Linked DNA regions of Homo sapiens. The protein of the gene in region 1 purifies or fractionates together with the protein of each later gene. This does not show direct contact. Each region holds a gene or a part of one and is shown in the gene's direction. Other genes may lie near its edges.

Region 1 (3,464 bases):
TGCTTCTTGATTTGCTTCAGCTCCTTCTAGTGCCTTGAAACTGAAGCTGGCCTGTAGTTGGGATCAAAGATGGAGGGAGAGGGGAGATTGTACTATGGATAGTGTAGGGCAAGAAGTGAATTCTTACACTGGAATGATAAAAGGAACCTGCTTCCTGAGTTTCTTAAAATTGTGTCTGGAACTCAGATTTGCACTGCCTAGTATAGTAGCTGCTGGCCACTGCTCTGTTGAGCACTTAAGCTCTGGCTAGAACATGTAAAATACATATCAGATTTTAAAACTTAAAATGGGAAGCAGACTAAAATAGCTAATCAATTTTTTATCTTGGGCCAGGCACAGTGGCTCATGCCTATAATCTCAGCATTTTGGGAGGCCAAGGAGAGAGAATTGCTTGAGGCAGGAGTTCAAGACCAGCCTGGGCAATATAGTGAGACCCCTGCCTCTACAAAAAATTTTAAAAATTAGCCAGGTATGGTGGTGCACACCTGTAGTCCCAGCTACTCAGGAGGCTGAGGCGGGAGGATCGCTAGAGCTGGGAGGTCAAGGCTGCAGTGAGCCGTGATTGTGCCACTGCACTCCAGCCTGGGTGACAGAGCGAGACCCTGTCTTAAAAAAAAAAAAATCTTGACTACATGTTGAAATAGTATTATTTTGGATACATTGAGTTAAATAAATACATTTTTAAAACTTCTTTCCTCTGTTTCTTTGTACATTTTTCATGTGGCTACAAAAAAATATAAGCTTGTTGTAGGTTTCTGTTGGACAGTGCTGAATTGCCACAGCTAACACCAAGATGATAGTTGTTTATTATCCATTCTCACTGTCAGAAAACAAGATGCTTGGGGCTCTGGTTTTGTTTGCTTATTTTTTTGTTTTTAAACAGAAGTTTTGCTGCCAATTAGCAATTAGAGAATTTTCTTAGGTCAGAAAACTTACAATTTGCAGTAATCAAAAGAAGTTAGTAAATTCTATTTGTGACTCTGCTTATGGAAATTCTAATTTAAAAACACAGTAAGAAATACAGGCTAGATTTATTGATTCTATGATGTTCAGTTAAGGTAGTAAACCTAGAAGTATTCGCCTAAAGAGAAAAACATTCTTGAGTTTGCAGATTGCCATCTTGGTAATATAGAAGGCATGCCATATGCACCTGATGACACTTTATTGTATCTGTTTCTATCTAAAAAGCCTTGCACATTTGCAGTTGTAACCTAATTCAGTTCTCATGGGTTCTTCACAGTAGTTTAAAGTCAAACAGTGTGCACATAGATACACTACATAATAAAAAATTGTACAAAACAGGAGAAAGTAGCTTCATAGTAAATATAAACCAAAACTGAAAAGAAGTTTCTTGCTTGTATCTTTTTGCTATTCTTAATTCTGTGATTGTAAAGATTTTGTCTTTTTGTATATTTTTTATGCAGGAGTCCAACCTATACCTTCTCAGGGAGGCAAACTAGAAATAGCTGGCACTGTGGTTGGCCATTGGGCTGGGAGCAGGCGGGGCCGTGGGGGCCGGGGGCCTTTCCCCCTGCAGGTGGTTTCTGTCGGAGGACCAGCTAGAGGGTAAGTTCTGAGCCACGAAAATGTCTTTTGTATAAGTAAAGAAAACAGCTTCTAACTTGCTTTTTTTTGGAAGTTTAAGTAGGAACATTTTTATATCATTAGATACATTCTTCTTTAATATCATTTGTATTTAATTATTTAGTTTTTATTTATTTATTTATCTTAAGATGGGGTCTCACTGTCACCCAGGCTAGAGTGCAGTGGCACAATCACAGTTCAGTGTAGCCTTGACTTTCTGGGCTCCATCGATCCTCCCACTTCAGCCTCCTGAGTAGCTGGGACCACAGTCATGTGCCACCATGCCTGGCTAATTTTTGTATTTTTGGTAGTGACAGGGTTTCGCCATGTTGCCCAGGTTGGTCTTGAACTCCTGAGCTCAACCAATCCACCCACCTCGGCCTTGCAAAGTGCTGGGATTACAGGTGTGAGCCACTGCACACAGCCTTTAACATCATTTATAATGTTTGCATAGGATCCCATTTATAGTATTATGTAATTATTTAATTAACCATTAAATAATTAACAATTATTAAATAATTAACCATACAATTTTCAATTAACCAGGTGCCTTAATATTTTTAAAGTATTAGTTTTCAAATCAAATGCATTGGATATGGGAGATGTAGCTCAGGGGTAGAGCATTTGACTGCAAATGCATTGGATATGAACCAAAAAAATAAGATTGATTCCTTGGAATAAATCTTCCCTATGATCATACTTAACCTGTTTACGCCTAGTGTTCCATTATTGGAACGCAAAGCATGTGGGAGTTCTTTATGTCCTACTGCTCAAGGTCTGACTGCAAAAATTCAACAAATTGCAACTTCCGGCATAAATGGGTTAATTCAGTGCTTCATAAAACGTAAGATTGGATGGCTTTAAAATCATTTGATACTATTTTAAATGTTGTCTGTAACAGATTTAAGTGTTTACTGTTGTCCTTTTTCATTCATTTAGGCGTCCAAGAGGAGTTATTTCCACCCCAGTGATTAGAACATTTGGAAGAGGTGGAAGGTACTATGGCAGAGGTTACAAAAACCAGGCAGCAATTCAGGTAAGAAGACAACATGATGTTTGTGCCAGTTCAATGCCCTCAGGGATGTCTCCTGTCTGAGCTTGCACTTCTAGTACCTGCGCTCAGACAGAAGAGCTGTGAGGGTAATGCTTTAGCTGTCAAGTGTCTAACACAGTAACTGGCACACAGCTGCTCACCAAATGTCCATTCCCTAGAGCCCAGATCATTTTGCTGTTAAGTGCCTCTTCAGGTTGTCTCTCCCCTTTGCCATGACCCTGTGTCTCTGGTAGCTTCCCGCCTGGTGTGACACGATGGGCTTGGCTTACCTTGGGCATTGCCTAGCCCTGACAGAGCTGGAACAGCCACTTGTAGTTTCTTTTTTTTTCTTTCTTTCTTTTTCTTTTTTTTTTTTTTTTTGAGATGGAGTCTCGCTCTATTGCCCAGGCTGGAGTGCCGTGGCACAATCTCCGCTCACTGCAACCTCCACTTCCCGGGTTCAAGCGATTCGCTTGCGTCAGCCTCCCGAATAGCTGGGATTACAGGTGTGTGCCACGACACTCGGCTAATTTTTGTAGTTTTAGTAGAGTTGCAGTTTCACCATGTTGGCCAGGCTGGTCTCAAACTCCTGACCTCAGGTGATCCGCCCGCCTTGGCCTCCCAAAGTGCTAGAATTACAGGCGTGAGCCACCATGCCCAGCGGTCCTGCTATATTTTTATGTTTTATATTATTTGTCTCAAGGTTCAAAGAAAATGACGATTGCATTGATTCATGGAGAAGGGTGCGTTAATATTTCTGAACTTTAGGGTTGGAAGGTAAAATAGAGGATGTTGTAGGAGAGTATGTGGGGACCCTTGGTTTATGGGGGCCATTCCTTAGGCAAGG
Region 2 (4,201 bases), on another chromosome or scaffold:
CTATCTTCAATTATCTGAAGACAGTTCTGATAGCTTCAGAATTCTTTCATACAAGGCAGGAATGCAACTTGTTTTTTAATGGCAGATAAAATCAAAGAGCAAAAGCAAAAGGTAGAAGCTTGAAAGACCAGAGTTGCTACAGATTGTTATTACATGTTCCATAATTTAACAATTGTCATTGAAGTTGGTGATTGTCTTGATATTGCACATCTGTAAGAAGTAATCAAACTATTGTGAATTTGATAGAATGCTTTAAGTTTTATTTTCCAACAAAAGAATGTCTACATACGGCAAATTCATAGATCTGGAATCCATTTATGTCATCAAAAGAGGATTTAAATTTAATTGTAAGCTTATATGATACATTGTTCTAACTGGCAACTAATGAAGGATTAAAAATGAATTTTGAAAATACCACACCACTTGCTTCATTTTGGATAAAAGTTAAAAGTGAATATTCTGAGTATGCTGAAATTAGTTTAAAAACTTTTTTTTCCCATTCCGACCATTATCCCTTTGTAAATCTGGTTTCATCTTATGAATAATATTTTTTAAAAACCATGGAAACAGTTTAGATATACATCAATCCATGAAAGTAGTAGTATTGTCAATCTACCCTGGATTACATATTTTAACGAGAAAGAAACCAGCTCATTTGTGACATTTAGAATTTTTTTTTTTTTTTTTTTTTTTTGAGAGAGAGGGTCTCATTCATTTTATTGCCCAGGCTGGAGTGCAGTGGTGCAATCGTAGCTCACTGTAACCTTGAACTTCTGGGCTCAAGCAATCCTCTCACCTCAGCCTGCAGCTGGAGCTTCAGGTGTCTGCCATCACGCCTGGCAAATTTATTTTTTGTAGAGACCAAGTCTCCTTGTGTTACCCAGGTTGGTATCAAACTCCTGGTCTCAAGTGATCCTCCCATCTCGGCCCCCACAAGTGTTGAGATGACAGGTGTGAGCCACCTTGCTTGACCTAAAAACTTTTGAATATTAATATGCATTGTGTTTATTCAAAGTATATCTAATGGTCTAATAAACAGAATCACTACTTCAATTATAATCTTCAGTTATAATTGAAGAATGACAAAAAGTTGAGTTATAGAAATTATATTAATCTTAAATTCACATTTTCAGTGAAAGTTTTTAAATAATTTTTTCTCTTTCCGTTTTATGTGTGTTCCAATTCTATTTATTGAAATTTAATTTTATATCCATTAACATAATTAAAAATTGGGGCTTTTAAAAAATGTTTTTCATTCTACTAATTTCATTTTATAATTTATAAAAGTACTAGACCACAATGGATTAAAGAACTATCCTTTCATCACAGATAGTTCAATGACTCCTGTTTTTTTTTAGACCGAGTCTTGCTCTGTCACCCCAGCTGGAGTGCAGTGGTGTGATCTTGGCTCACTGCAACCTCCGTCTCCCAGGTTCAAGCAAGTCTCCTGCCTCAGCCTTCCGAGTAGCTGGGACTACAGGTGCCCACCACCACACCCGGCTAATTTTTGTATTTTTAGTAGAGACGGGGTTTCACCATGTTGGTCAGGCTGGTCTTGAACTCCTGACCTCATGATCTGCCTGCCTCGGCCTCCCAAAGTGCTAGGATTACAGGCGTGAGCCACCATGCCCAGCCAACTCCTGTTTTATAGTGTACTTTCTGGAATATTATTCAGCTTTCTCTTGAATTCTTTTAGTAACTAGGAGTTCACTACGTTTCCATGGACCTAACTCCAATAATGATTGGACAGTTTTCTCCCTCTGCTTTTTCTTTCTTTCTTTCTTTTTTTTTTTTTTTTTTTTGAGATGGCGTCTCCTCTGTCAATCTCGGTTCATTGCAACCTCCACCTCCCAAGCTCAAGCGATTCTTGTGCCTCAGCCTCCTGAGTAGCTGGGATTACAGGCACCCACCACCACACCTGGCTAATTTTTTTTTTTGGTAGAGACAGGGTTTCACCATGTTGACCAGGCTGGTCTTGAACTCCCGACCTCAGGTGATCTGGCTGCCTTGGCCTCCCAAAGTGCTGACATTACAGGCATGAGCCACTGCACCTGGCCATTATTGGACAGTTTTAATGGAAAGTGTTTCCTTATATTGAGTGGAAATCAGTCTGCTTATGGTTTATAATCCTCAGACTTGATTCTCCCCCTGAATCTATATGAAATAAATTTACTCCTATTTGAAAATATTTGTCATATTCCTTCTTATTTTTCTTTAAGCTTTATTTTTTCTTATTATCCATATGACATGTTTCCAGAACTCTCCCTTATCCTGATTGTCCTCCTTTAGACACATGCTTTTAATGATATATTTCTTAAAATGTATTACCCAGGACAACATATTTTTTTTTACTGTGGACAGTATACTTTTACGAATGGTGCCAATAATGCATTACATTTTTTAGCAGTCATGTCATCCTCTTGATTTGCATTGAGTCATCATTTCTTAAGAGGGAATCAGGATATCAAAATAGTCTCCAAACTCAGCTGATTCCTTCTGCAGATACACTCTCCACCCTTCTTGATTCCTTTTCGGGAGAAAAGAAAAAAGTTTATTTTCATTGCTAACCTCACTGATTTTTAATTTTACCATTTAAATGTTAGTAACAGCTGGTAATGTAACCAAAGAAGATTTTTGGCAGGGGATGATGCATTCAGAGCCTTCACTCTGGCTACAGGGAGACCATGGAGGATGGGCTGGAACGGAAGCACGATGGACTCCTGGGCACACCGTTAAGTGACTGATGGAGTCATTCAGCTGACAAATGATAATGGCCTGGATTAAGGAAGGAGAAGAGGGGACCAAGAAATGCCAGAGATACATAGGAAGTAAAAATTAATAGGCCTTGGCAACTATTTTTTTTTTTTTTTTTTGAGACAGAGACTTGCTGTGTTGCCCAGGCTGGAGTGCAGTGGGGTGATCTCGGCTCACTGCAACCTCTGCCTCCTGGATTCAAGCAATTTTCGTGCCTCAACCTCCTGAGTAGCTGGGACTACAGGTGTGCATCACCATTCCCAGGTAATTTTTGTATTTTTAGTATAGATGGAGTTTCGCCATTCTGGCCAGGCTGGTCTCGAGCTCCTGACCTCAAGTGATTCGCCCGCGTCGGCCTCCCAAAGGGCTGGGATTACAGACATCAGCCACTGCACCTGGGTTGGCAACTAATTTACACGGAATGGCAGAGAGTGATTAATGAAAAAGCGGGGAGAAAAGCTGCTCTTGACATCTGAAAGCTGACTTGGCATTCACAGCTAGGCTATGTTATTTTCCTATTGGGCATAAGTCTCACAGAATACCAACATTAAACAAGATGACTCTGAAACCTTAATAAAGTGAGAAAAAACAAGTCCACTTTGTAATTTTGTCTAAGCACAGGCAAAAAGAGGGTCATGGTGCCATCCAGAAAATACCAAAAATCACCCTCTCTCAGCTAAAATGAGCAACTGCTACTTTACCAGTGACAGCTTTGTCCCAGCTCTAGTCTGCCTTCCCTATAGAGAAGATGTATTGAGATAATCATGAAATTCTCCTTCTTTCTGATAGTATCCAATCTGGAGCAAACCCGTTTCCTTAGACCCTCTCCCAATCCCAAATTCTATACTAGGTTCTTCTAAACACTCTCATACTGAGACACCCCATGGTTCCCTATGTTGTGTGTTCTTCTTTGCTGCAATGAGTAATAAACTCAACTTGTTTAACTAGAGGTGTGTTCCTGGTGGTCTCTGGTTAAAGAGCATTGATGTTAAGAATAATTTCAGAGTTTCTTGCTTGGACAGTCAGGTGTGAGTAGTGCCAGTAATAGAAATAAAGAATACTGGAGAAGAAGAAAATGTCTTCAGTTTTTAACAGGTTACCTTTGAGATATTAGTAGGTTACTCCAAGTGGAGATATCCAAGAAGTAATTGGATGGATTTATGACTCTGGAGCTCAAGAGAGATGTCTGTGCTGAATCTATCTATCAGTCATCCATGTACCTACCTACCTACCTGTAGCTACACATAATATACTCAGAAATGTACATATTTGAGAGCTTTTTTTTTTTTAAGGCAGGATCTCACTCTTGCTCAGGCTGGAGTGCAGTGGCTCAATCTGGCCTCACTGCAGCCTTGACCTCCTGGGCCCAAGAAATCCTCCTACCTCAGCCTCCCAAGTAGCTGGGACTACAGGTACATACCACCACACCTCGCTAATTTTTGTGTTT
Region 3 (3,500 bases), on another chromosome or scaffold:
ATATCACATTGTACAATTTACATTATACTTTTTTCCTCTGCTCACCTCTATGTCTTGGGGATCATCCTGTGTTAGCACATAGAGGTTTACCTCAGTGTTTTTCATAGAAAAAAGATGCGTGAGCAAAAAAGAAACCCTCTATTCCCCATCTGTGCAGTTGCCTTCCCCAGCGTCAATCGCTGTGACTGGTGTCTTCTGTAAACTTCCAGAGTTATCGAGCATATATAAGCATATTACTGTATGCTAGTGTATTTCACACAGAGTTTTGTACCCTACAGTTTTCACTTGGATCATATATCTTAGAGCATTTTGTGTCATACGTTTAGAGCTGTCTCCTTTTTAATTGCTCTGTGAAATACCGCTGTATGGATGGATATTTAGGTAATTTCTCATTTTTTAGAGCCTATTGCAAAGAATATGTGAATGTATTTTTAAGATAAATTTCTAAAAATTGAATCGCTGGGCTGAATGGTTTGTATATTTAAATTTTAATAGTACTCACATTGCTCTCCACAAAGGTTTTTTATCAGTTTACATTCCCACCAGCAGTGGTGAGTACCCACCTCCCCTTATCAGCCAAAGCATTTTTAAAGGGTTTGCCACTGTGATAAGTTAAAAAAAAAAAAGATATTTTCTATTTCCTTGTATAACAGTGATATTGGCTATCAATTTACATGTTTTTTACATGTTTATTGGCTATTTGAGTTTCCCTTTTGGGAACAGACTGATTATTTCTTTTGCCTATTTTTCTACAGGGTTGTTTATTATTATTATTTTTTTTTATTTAAGACCGTGCCTGGCCTTTTTTTTTTGAGATGGAGTCTTGCTGTGTCACCCAGGCTGGAGGGCAGTGGCACAATCTTGGCTCACTGCAACCTCCTCCCTGGTTCAAGTGGTTCTCATGTTTCAGCTAGCTGGAATTACAGGCACATGCCACCATGCCCAGCTAATTTTTGTATTTTTAGTAGAGATGGGGTTTCAGCCTGTTGGCCAGGCTGGTCTTGAACCCCTGACCTAAAGTGATCTGTCCATCAAAGTGCTAGGATTACAGCGCTTACAGCTCACAGGCGTGAGCCACTGTGTCTGGCCCAGGTTGTTTATTCTTTTCTATTTGATTTGTAAGTATTCATTTTATATTTTGAATGTTAGTCCTTTTTAGATTACAGATTTTGCAGATACTTTGTGAATCTGAGGAGCCCTTTAAAAATATGTATGATTGAGACTTACCCACAGAAGTTCTCATTCGTAAGTGTGGTGGTTGTGGGGATTGGCATCTGTATTTTAAAATTTGATATACAATCAAATTTAAGAACTATGATAAGATTATGGAGAATGGAGGAATTTAGGACAGTAGCTAAGACCTCAAAAAGATGTGTGTTCAACTCTCAACTGTGTCATTTAACAGCTGTGGGGCCTTGGGCAGGTTATTAAATGTCCATAAGCTTTGTTTTCTTCATCTGAAAAATGGAAACAGTAGGATTTATGAGATAGTTAAATAAGATTGATTCTTGTGAAATGTTTAACACAGTACCTAGTTCATAGGAAAAGTTAAAAAATAAAAAATAGAGACTTATTTTTCTATTCAAGCAATCAAAATATTAAGACTATAAAATACATGTTATGTTATTTGTGAAAAATGTCCATTAAGGTTCAAAATTGGTAACCATTCTCGGTATCAGGTTCATGGAGGAATTGAAATCAATCAGTTGGGTCTTGCTGATGGAACATTCTTGAGTTGTAGTGTCATATCATTAGGAAGGACATTCTTGTCACAGAAGATCTACAAAATCTGTAAAATACGATAAAATGTACCAGATAGTAGCTGAAACTGAAGTGGAGTGTCTGCGTTGTGAAATAGTGTGTGTGAGTAGGATTTTGACCCCGTGGTTAGTGATTATACAACCGACCACCAGGTACCCAGATGGACTTTTCCATCATTGACCTGAAAGAGGCATAAATTTACAGACAGATTAAACAGTCTTCTACCTGTCTGTGAGGTCATGAGGTCATGGGAGGGAGAACACCAACAGAAGTGATTTGGAATGAGTTATTGAGTTGTGGTTGTGGTACCTATGACTTCTTTCTTTCTTTTTTTAGACGGAGTCTTGCTGTGTCTCCCAGGCTGGAGTGCAGTGGCATAATCTTGGCCCACTGCAACCTCCACCTCCTGGATTCAAGCGATTCTCATGCCTCAGCCTCCCAAGTAGCTGGAATTACAGGCACGCGCCACCACGCCTGGCTGATTTTTTTTTTGTATTTTTAGTAGAGATGGGGTTTCACCATGTTGGCCAGGCTGGTCTTGAACTCCTGACCTGAAGTGATCCACCCGCCTTGGCCTCCCAAAGTATTGGGATTACATGTGTGAGCCACCACGCCTGTCCCCTGTGACTTCTTCGGGTACAGTTCCCTCCTGTTTTACCTATGTGGCAAATGAGCCAGGAACGGTTCTCTGAATGTTTTATTAGGTTCATTCATCCAATTATTCATTTGTTCATTTACCATGCAGTCAGAATCTACAATCTTTTATTATTTGAAAAAAAATACAAAACTATATTACCATAATTTTATTTTAACTGTACATATCCATTTTTAAAGACTGGAAAGACCATGTTATTAATGTAATTTTTTTCTTTTTTTACCCCAAATATTCTACAATTAGCATGTATGACTTTAGTAGTAAAAAAGATAAGCTTGTGAAATCTATCAGCTCTCAGGCTAAGCATTACACCAAGAGAATCTTGCACGATCCTTCAATCATAAGAAATCACATGTTAGTGCAGAAGGTCCAGCGTGAAATCCTCTAAGTGGCCAAATCTAGGAGTTCTTCTCTGGCTTGGTTGGCTAAAGCAGTGATCTGTGTCACCCCCAGGGCCATCACTGTGCATGTCCCCATGCCCTCAGCAGGAGTCGTGGACATCCCCATTGTGGAGAAGGAGGCGCAAGGCCAGCAGCAACACCACAAGGTGAGCGAGCAGCCTCCCTGAGGCATGGGTTGCTGCTCTTCCTTGGGAATCATATCTTGATTTCTTTGGCTTCAGATGACATTGTCCCCGAGCTACCGCATGGACGATGGGAAAATGGTGAAAGTGCGGCGCAGCCGGAATGCGCAAGTTGCTGTAACTCAGTACCAGGTGCTCAGCAGCACTCTCTCCTCCGCCCTCGTGGAGCTCCAGCCCATCACTGGTGAGAGTGTCACTTTTCCGCAGTGGGATCACAAAACCCTGTGCCACCAGGTTTTGTCCAGGGCCTCGTTCTGAGCAGCTAGTAGTGTGGCTGACTTGTGTGAGAATGTGCTTCTGGTGCTGATCTGAGGCCGGGGACTCCCAGAGAGATGGTTGTGGCTAGCAGAAGAATACAAACAGGTTGAATGCCTCTATTTAAAACTGTGTAGAGTGGTTCCTCAAAACGATTAAACAGAATTATTGTAAGATCCAGCAGTTCCACTTCTGGGTATATACCCCAAAAATCAAATATTTGCACACATATTCATAGCAGCGTTA
Region 4 (3,500 bases), on another chromosome or scaffold:
GATGCAGGCAAAGCCCTTATGGTGTCTATCACATATCATATATGCAGCTGGTGGCTATTAGCTTATTAACTGGAGTACCATCCTAGGTGCCAAGAAATACAGCTTTTTATCATTCATTTTGGATGCTTTTTATACTTTAGTCCCTTTATGTATGAATACATGGCTGTTGCATTTGGAATATGACTCAGTATTCTCCTAGAAATTTAAAATGTAATTCATTTGTTGAACATTCTGTGCTTTACTATGTGCTCTTCACCAATCTAGGTGAATTTGATTAATTCACTTAATCCTCAGAGTCACAGTGATAATATTTATGATTAGTAAATAAATGCATCAACATTAATACCTCCTATTATAGTAGAATGTTTAACTTGAATTCAAATGCGTGACAAAAATCTAATGTATTAGAGTTTATCCTTCTATTCAATGAACACTATATGTGAATGAAAAAGGCACATGAATCTGCTATTTCTGCAGCTGGTTTTACTTCCTGACTGCCTCTCATAGTACATGCAACTTTTGCTAAGTATCACTTCAGTCTCTGAAGATACATAGGCCGGGCATGGTGGCTCTCGCCTGTAATCCCAGCGCTTTGGGAGGCCGAGTTGGGTGGATCATTTGAGGTCAGGAGTTTGAGACCATCCTGATCAACATGGTGAAACCCCATCTCCTCTAAAAATACAAAAAAAATTAGCTGGGCCTGGTGGTACATGCCTGTAGTCCCAGCTACTCTGGGAGGCTGAGGCAGGAGAATTGCTTGAACCTGGGAGGCAGAGGTTGCAGTGAGCCAAGATCTTGCCACTGTACTCCAGCCTGGGTGACAGAGCGAGACTCCATCTCAAAAATAAAAATAAAAAATAAAGATAAAATAAAAAGTGTAAAACATGACCTCCAAATGATGGTTATTTGAAGTGGTAGCACTATAGTGGTCCATTTTCATGCTGCTGACAAAGACATACCCGAGACTGGGAAGAAAAAGAGATTTAATTGGACTTACAGTTCCACAAGGCTGGGAAAGCCTCAGAATCATGGCGGGAGGTGAAAGGCACATCTTACGTGGCCGCAGCAAGAGAAAAATGAGGAAGAAGCAAAAGCGGAAACCCCTGATAAACCCATCAGATCTCGTGAGACGTATTCACTATGACAAGAATAGCACCGGAAAGACTGGCCCCATTGATTCAGTTACCTCCCTCCTGGGTCCCTCCCACAACACATGGGAATTCTGGGAGATACAATTCAAGTTGAGATTTAGGTGGGGACACAGCCAAACCATATCAAGCACCAACAGTAAAGGGACAAGTGGACAATTGGCAATGTTGGTCTTTCTCCTAAGACTGTGTCCTGGGCCAGGCGCAGTGGCCTGTAATCCCAGCACTTTGGGAGGCCAAGGTGGGGGAATCACCTGAAGTCAGAGTTTGAGACCAGCCTGGCCAACATGGTGAAACCCTGTCTCTACTAAAAATACAAAAATTAGCCAGGCATGGTGGTGCATGCCTGTAATCCCAGCTACTTGAGAGGCTGAGGTACAGGAATAGCTTGAACCCGGGAGGCGGAGGTTGCAGTGAGCCAAGATTGCACCACTGCACTCCAGCCTGGGCGACAGAACAAGACTGTCTCAAAGAAAAAAAAAGACTGTCTTTCTCCAACATGGAGCATTTCTAAGGGTGTTTTGACCATGTATGACTTTTTTTTTCTTCTATGCACTCACTGACTTTAGAACTTAACCCCTTCACAAAATGCTTCTGTTTTGTAGTCATAACTTTTTTATGTGGCTTTTCATTTACTCTGTTTGGAGAAGGTTAAATTTCATACAAGCAGTGTAGTTATTATTAGATTTTAACTGTTTGGTAAACTTTAAAGCGCTTCGGGTGGTATTCCAGGCATTGAGATGTGAAAGTTGTTGCTCAAGTCTATTATCTTTTGTAAAACTCGCCCACTCAGCCTTCTGCCATTAATGAAAAGGTTGGAAACTGCCAAAGGTGACAGTGGTGGAAACAACATTAGCTGGAAACTACTGCTGCTATCAAGGTTGTGTTAGCAACCTGGATGTAGCAGCCAAAAGGTCTCCTTCCATTTATACCGTGATGAAATTTTAGTTACTCGAGCAGCTTTATGCATTTCTTTGCCCTTGGGGATTAACAGATGATAAACCTTATTAGGTTTTTGTTTTTGTTTTTTTTTTCCCCAATAAAAAAGTTGTCAACATTTGCAGAAATACAGAGAATGGTATAATGAATCCTCATGGCCTCAACAGTAAGCTACATGTGGCCGTTCTTGTTTTTATATCCCTAGTCCATACTTCCCCTCCCACTTTGAAGCAAATCCTAGATCTTATTTCATTCGTAAGTGGATCAGATTCTTAATTTTTATATTGGCATTGTAGTGAAATATTGGTTTAAACTTTATTCCTCAGCCATCTTAGAAGTTGACCCAGAATGAGAAGACAATTCCCTGTTTAGCTGAACAGAACCTTTCTGCTGTTAATTATAACACTTCAGCTTTTAGGCAAGGAAGAAAAATAGCTCAATTGACAATTTTATTGATGAACATAAATTTTTATCATGTGAGGGATCTTTAAAAAAGCATTTGTGCTAGAGACATACCACCTTGTGTGTTTTAGCCAGTTGCATAGATTAAAATTGTTTTTTCATTTTTGATCCGTAGGAATCCTATGAGGATGGTTGTGAGGATTATCCTACTCTATCAGAATATGTTCAGGATTTTTTGAATCATCTTACAGAGCAGCCTGGCAGTTTTGAAACTGAAATTGAACAGTTTGCAGAGACCCTGAATGGTTGTGTTACAACAGATGATGCTTTGCAAGAACTTGTGGAACTCATCTATCAACAGGTATGTTGGCTTATAGCATGCAGTGACCTTCAGATAGCTTCCTTGAAGCCCAAGGATAGTGGCTACTCCTTGAGGGAGACCAGATTCATGATCACCTGCCTCCACACTTACTCTTTATAGTTTCCGGGAGTTCTAAGTCTGTCTTGTATAAAACTCCTATAGTTAGGGATCCAAGGGTAGAGCCAGACAGGATTGCAAGTTCACATGTGTAGTCAAGATTCAATATAGGTAATATTCACCTGTTTAGCCAAAGCTCTATACAAGCAGTATAGTATAGAAGGTGATATGGGCACTGAAAACGAAGGCTACATAAGTGTCACCCCCACCAAAACCCTGCCCCTTGTTTTGCAGGCTCTGAAATTAGCAGTACCAGAAAAGACTGCAATTCTTTTCCCCTATGTGTTGAATTGAATAGTAGTATTAGAGTAGGGGAGGAAAAAAATTGAGAGAATTTGCTTGCCTCATAAGTAGGTCTTTAAAAAAAAGAAAGCCAAACCATAAAATGTCTTGTCTTAGCATTTCTACTTGCCTTTGCTTTCTTTTAAAATTTAAGGATTTCATCTTAATTCCTTGAAAGTCTAATTTAGTCAGTTGAAATTGTTTCATTATACAACATTTAGTTTTTATCCCAGCATATTGGTCATTAACAT

What was found. Proteins that work in one complex are often made in the same cells at the same time.
Region 2: the proteins of FAM120A (region 1) and MRPL42 purify together in Homo sapiens (co-immunoprecipitation; 2 studies listed by BioGRID and IntAct, with this or other methods). This does not show direct contact.
Region 3: the proteins of FAM120A (region 1) and RPUSD4 purify together in Homo sapiens (co-immunoprecipitation; 2 studies listed by BioGRID and IntAct, with this or other methods). This does not show direct contact.
Region 4: the proteins of FAM120A (region 1) and PAIP1 purify together in Homo sapiens (co-immunoprecipitation; 2 studies listed by BioGRID and IntAct, with this or other methods). This does not show direct contact.

The regions. Positions count from the first base shown.
Region 1 is NC_000009.12:93,559,685-93,563,148, forward strand, and holds part of FAM120A (constitutive coactivator of PPAR-gamma-like protein 1), read left to right. Parts: intron 1-1,424; coding exon 1,425-1,566; intron 1,567-2,523; coding exon 2,524-2,620; intron 2,621-3,320; coding exon of another isoform or gene 3,321-3,335; exon of another isoform or gene 3,336-3,464. UniProt on the Homo sapiens protein: Component of the oxidative stress-induced survival signaling. May regulate the activation of SRC family protein kinases. May act as a scaffolding protein enabling SRC family protein kinases to phosphorylate and activate PI3-kinase.
Region 2 is NC_000012.12:93,512,514-93,516,714, forward strand, and holds the end of MRPL42 (large ribosomal subunit protein mL42 precursor), read left to right. Parts: 3' UTR 1-3,701; downstream 3,702-4,201.
Region 3 is NC_000011.10:126,205,151-126,208,650, reverse strand, and holds part of RPUSD4 (pseudouridylate synthase RPUSD4, mitochondrial), read left to right. Parts: intron 1-2,869; coding exon 2,870-2,963; intron 2,964-3,038; coding exon 3,039-3,183; intron 3,184-3,500. UniProt on the Homo sapiens protein: Catalyzes uridine to pseudouridine isomerization (pseudouridylation) of different mitochondrial RNA substrates. Acts on position 1397 in 16S mitochondrial ribosomal RNA (16S mt-rRNA).
Region 4 is NC_000005.10:43,547,078-43,550,577, reverse strand, and holds part of PAIP1 (polyadenylate-binding protein-interacting protein 1), read left to right. Parts: intron 1-2,664; coding exon 2,665-2,850; intron 2,851-3,500. UniProt on the Homo sapiens protein: Acts as a coactivator in the regulation of translation initiation of poly(A)-containing mRNAs. Its stimulatory activity on translation is mediated via its action on PABPC1. Competes with PAIP2 for binding to PABPC1.